Regions from separate parts of the Homo sapiens genome. Here region 2 is linked to region 1. A link means that fine-mapping ties the variant in region 1 to the expression of a gene that starts in the linked region. Tissue or cell type: whole blood. Region 1 holds a variant in brackets; the other region holds the start of a gene. All regions are shown on one strand. Distances are between the middles of the regions.

Evidence for each region. PIP is the estimated chance that this variant, and not a neighbour inherited with it, causes the effect.
Region 2: ENTREP3 starts here. The variant in region 1 is fine-mapped to the expression of ENTREP3 in whole blood (TOPMed, PIP above 0.99).

Annotation. Positions count from the first base shown.
Region 1 is chr1:155,866,460-155,869,303 of GRCh38, forward strand. It overlaps SYT11 (synaptotagmin 11), which reads left to right. Exons shown (of 4, transcript NM_152280.5): 2 at 1,506-2,332. Among named protein-coding and RNA genes, the nearest start is that of SYT11, 8.3 kb to the left of the region's middle. The variant G/A (reference allele first, on the strand shown) is at 1,173.
Region 2 is chr1:155,254,048-155,256,547 of GRCh38, forward strand. It overlaps ENTREP3 (endosomal transmembrane epsin interactor 3), which reads right to left and starts at 1,436. Exons shown (of 12, transcript NM_006589.3): 1 at 606-1,436; 2 at 353-409; 3 at 37-147. The coding sequence starts at 830. It overlaps SCAMP3 (secretory carrier membrane protein 3), which reads right to left. Exons shown (of 9, transcript NM_005698.4): 9 at 1,934-2,372. The coding sequence ends at 2,226.

The sequences.
Region 1 (2,844 bases):
TATGTGTTTTAAGTGCTGAGGGTACAGCCGTGAACAAAACAGACATAAATTTTTGTCCTCATGAGACTTATATTCTAGTGAAGATAAATAATAAATTGTAAAATAATATGCGTGTGGGTGTTTATTCTTACATATTTGTGTATGTATTTTATATATTTTTTTCTTACATGTGTAGGGGTGTGTGTATCAGAGAGCGAGAATGACGGCATGTTGAAAAAAATTAAGCAAGGCTAGGAAGAGTGGGTGGTGAGGATGGAGAAGATTGCACTTTTAAATAGGTGAGTCAGGAAAGGCCTAAGAAGGTGACATTTGAGCAGAGATCTGACATTTTCCACTAATAGGGAAGAAAACCCCTATTTCTTCCAGTGAAGGATTTATTAAGGTAATAATAATGAAAAGAGAAAGTCTCTATTTCTTCCTATTTAGAATAATATATGTATACATAAATACATATATATACACACACACATATATACATATATACACACACATATACATATATACACATACACACACACACACACACACACACATATATATATATACATACATACACACACCTATTTTTTTGCCTACAATGGATATATTCATCCTGGAGGAATACCTTTTTTTTTTTGAGACGAAGTCTTGCTCCATCACCCAGGCTGGAATGCAGTGGCACGATCTCAGCTCACTGCAACCTCTGCCTCCCAGGTTCAAGCGATTCTCCTGCATCAGCCTCCCAAGTAGCTGGGATTATAGGCACATGCCACCACGCCCAGCTAATTTTTTATATTTTTAGTAGAGACGGGGTTTCACCATGTTGGTCAGTCTGGTCTTGAACTCCTGACCTCAAATGATCCACCTGCCTCAGCCTCCCAAAGTGCCGGGATTACAGGTGTGAGCCACTGCACCCAGCCTTGTATTTTATATACCTGGGAGCTAAAATTTTGGAACATATTTTAAAAGTACATAAACCCAGAATTCTTCCTTTTGGCACCCATCCATTTTTACTACCCTGAACACCCTACCAAGACCATCTAAACTCATCTCCACACCCTTCCACCCTAGCCTGACAGCGAGTCAGTCAGTGCAGGCCCTGTTCTGGATGCTATGGAATATCCTGAAACCAAACATCTTGTGTAACAGTTGAAGTGAACAGGTGCTCATGTAAAAAGGTGATCTTAGAACAC[G/A]TACAGAGCAGCTTTATGTGAAGCACAAATCAGTATGAGCAAACCAAGTCTATAAGTGCTGAGAGAAGGTCTAGGAAAGAACATAGAGTCAAGTGGGGTGCTTCAGAGAAGGCTTTCTATAGAAGGCTGGGAGGAAAAGCCGTGGAGTGGTTGGAGAGGTTGGGAGAGGGTGCCTCTAATAGAAGGGAAAAATTCTGAAGCCCAGATGAGCACATTTTGCTTTAGAGGCTAGATTGAAGATTAGCTTGGCTCCAGCAGTGGCAATGAGCAGGGGAGATCTAGACAGGAGGTGAAGTCCACCCGCCCTGACACATCTCTGATCTCCGCCTTCAGATGTGTCACCGGTGGTGGCCGGCCTCATCGGGGCCTCTGTGCTGGTGGTGTGTGTCTCGGTGACCGTCTTTGTCTGGTCATGCTGCCACCAGCAGGCAGAGAAGAAGCAGAAGAACCCACCATACAAGTTTATTCACATGCTCAAAGGCATCAGCATATACCCAGAGACCCTCAGCAACAAGAAGAAAATCATCAAAGTGCGGAGAGACAAAGATGGTCCTGGGAGGGAAGGTGGACGTAGGAACCTGTTGGTGGACGCAGCAGAGGCTGGCCTGCTAAGCCGAGACAAAGATCCCAGGGGGCCTAGCTCTGGATCTTGTATAGACCAATTACCCATCAAAATGGACTATGGGGAAGAACTAAGGAGCCCTATTACAAGCCTGACCCCTGGGGAGAGCAAAACCACCTCTCCATCATCTCCAGAGGAGGATGTCATGCTAGGATCCCTCACCTTCTCAGTGGACTATAACTTCCCGAAAAAAGCCCTGGTGGTGACAATCCAGGAGGCCCATGGGCTGCCAGTGATGGATGACCAGACCCAGGGATCTGACCCCTACATCAAAATGACCATCCTTCCTGACAAACGGCATCGGGTGAAGACCAGAGTGCTGCGGAAGACCCTGGACCCTGTGTTTGACGAGACCTTCACCTTCTATGGCATCCCCTACAGCCAGCTGCAGGACCTGGTGCTGCACTTCCTTGTCCTCAGCTTTGACCGCTTCTCTCGGGATGATGTCATTGGCGAGGTCATGGTGCCACTGGCAGGGGTGGACCCCAGCACAGGCAAGGTACAACTGACCAGGGACATCATCAAAAGGAATATCCAGGTGAGTAGGAAGTGTGTGTTGGGGAGCAATGGTAGGTTGGGGGAGAAAATATCTCAGGGGATAAATGGAAGTGGGAGGGGAGTGGGTTGGGTGGCAAAGAAGGGCTGTAGAGAGGAAGCTCTTGGATGTCAAGGATAAGCAGTGGTCAGAGTAAGACAGAGGGCCTGGCAGATGAGGTCTCCTCTAAGAAGCAACTTCCTGGTGAGAGAAGGTTCAATAGCTTTCACCATTTCACTTAGTGGTTGGCATCCTGATGCTGTCCAGCTTACTTGGAACAGGCTGGCCTACCATTTGTAGATCCTTCATTATATCAGGGATATGGGAGCTAATTTCCTCTCCAAAATGATGTGATCTTCCTCCAGTGAATTTATTTTTCACAGCTGAGAAGCTATGACAATAATTCAGTAATTTTTCCCTCAGCTTCCCTTTCCCAACCCTAACCTAGGGGTGTAAATGATACCATGTACATGTCTTTTTTTTTTTTTTTTTTTTTTTTGAGACAGAGTTTCACT
Region 2 (2,500 bases), 610 kb before region 1:
GCCAGTTCTTTCCAGCTCTCCCTCCTCAAATCTCACCAGAGAGCACTGTTGGAAGTCTCGGGCCAGTTGAGCATTCTTACAGGAGAGAACAGAGCCAGCCATGCTAAGCATGACACAGAGCACCGAAAGCAAGGAGAAGAAGGAGATCTGGGGAAAACAGGGTGCAGACTCAGGGCTGGGACCCTCATGAGTACTCCTCTGCCACGGACAGAGTCCCCCTCCTTCACAGACACTTCGTGCCCACCCGGCTGGCACCAACTGGGGAGCCAGTTCCCTTCTTGAGGACATAAATGGGCTTCCCCTTGCGTGCTGGGCACCTGCCTCCCAGTGGGCACTGGACCCTGGCACCTACCACTAGAGTGAATGGCCGCTTCCAGGACACAATGCCAACCACCCCGGAGAACGCCAGCTGGGGACAGAGTGGGCACAGGCTCAGCCTGGCAGGGGAGGCTCCTGAGTGAGCCCCTCACCACAGGATGCACCCAGCCCTGTAAGGAGGCAGAGGACCAGGAGAGGGAGGAGAGGCAAGCATGTGGACTTGCAGCTGGTGTGGAGGGTGGGGCCCGAGGAGCCTCCCCCACCCAACAACTGTGCACCCAACTCACCGAGAACCCAGCCCAAGACGGGCAGGACCTCTTGATGCTCTCGGTGGTGGTGACGGAAGAGGCCACCATGCTGAAGGTGACCACCAGGATGCCCAGGAGCACTTGGACCAGCCCCAGCGTAAGCAGGGCCTGCAGCCAGGGTCGGTGGAGGCGGAGGTGGGTAAGGCCCCTGGTGCTGGGCCGGCTGGTCAGCGAGCGGCTGGAGTCACTAGGCGAGGGCATCATGCCTGCTGCCCGGTTGCCTGCGCCTCGCTCGGCCCTCCCTGGCACTTGGGAGCATCTCAGAGGCGCCCAAGGCCCCGTCCTTTCTCCTCTCCACCCCACTCGCTCTAGAGCCCACCCCCTGGCTGGGTCCCCTGGGGCATGGCCGAGGGACGCCAGCTGTGGGGGGGGCCAAGCGAGGGGCGTCACGGAGGGACCGCGGAGTGCTCCCTCCCCACCACGGGCACTGGACGGGCACCGTGCCCGGGGCGACGATGAGGACGCGGGGGCACCGGCTCATCGCATCTCCCTAGGGAAGAGGGGCACCGAGAAGGGCCGGTCCAGGAGTGAGGAGGGGGCGGCGGCCTGGAGCCCAGGGAGGGGTGGGGAGGGTAAAAGCGGGAAGGATGGAAATAAGTCTAGAGAAGAGGGGAGGGGTCGGCGTGGGGTGACTCTAGAGGCGCGGTCGGTGTGCCCTCAGGGCGTCCAGTAGGATCCGGGGCCGCCTGGTGGGGAGAGGCCGCGGCGCCGCTGTCTCCTGTGTCGCCTGTCCCGCTCCCCTCCCCACCACGCTCCGCTCCCCGAGCTCCGGCTGCCGCAGGTCGGGGACTAGAGAAGGGGGATGGGAATGGGGATGGTGCGGGAAGGAGGGGCATGGCGGCGAGGGCCGGCGCGGTGCACCCCGGGAGTTGTAGTTCGGGACTGAGACCCTGTCGGGGTTGGGGGATCCCGCGGCAGGGCGAGGCAGTCGGATAAGCGCTCCTCCAGTCCCTGCCTCGCTCTGGACCCTGGCTAGGCTGCTAGTGATCCTTTGGGCCTCCACTTGAGCCCCATCCAGCTTTTCAGGCTCCAGGCCCGCGTATTCCTTGGCGTTCCCGGCAGAGGCGGTGGCTCTTCCCCGTCATTAATGGAGAGGGGTGGGGAGCAGGGCTCCCTGGCGTCTCCGGGTTTCGCGTTTCCGTGGACTTCCCACCTCCTTCCTGCGCCAGCCACTCGGGCTCCACCGCCCCGCCCCTCATATCTCCCAGTTTACACTAAAGCCGGGTCCGACCTTCCCACCTCACTCCACACTCTCCTTTCTCTTTCATAAGGCCTAATTCCCAATGAAGATTCAGGAAACGGGGATGTCAGTTCCAGTTCCACTTTCTTTTTATTTAAATAACCGAAGCAACAGCCGTGGCACAGCAGAGGGAAGCTGGGTTGGGGCGTGTGAGAGGTGGCAGCAGTGTGGCCTGATGGGGGGACTAGGTCACAGTGAACTCCCCACACGCCTGTCAGGTTCAGCAGTCATGGCCATAGGATTGGGAGCACTACGGAGGAGCCATCAGTTAGTGATGTCTCTCCAAGTCCCAGAGACCTTAGGGACGGGAGCTAAGTCAGCTCCCTCAAGTAGCAGGGCCAGGGCATCCCAGTCAGGGGTCACGGGGCCCGGAAGGCATTTTCAGCAGCCCCAGCGGCTGCATTGGCAGCTGCGGTTCGCACCGCAGGGTTGGAGAAGACACCAGCAGCAAATTCTTGCTGGGCCTTCTGAAAGCTGGCACCTGTGCGGCGGTATAAGGAGTGGATCTGCAAGTAGAGGACAAAGACATTACCGCCCATTCCAGCCACTGGTTCCCCACCCCAGCCTAACAGCATCACTACCACTCAGCAGCCTGCTGCCCAGCACACACACTCACACACAGAAACACACACCC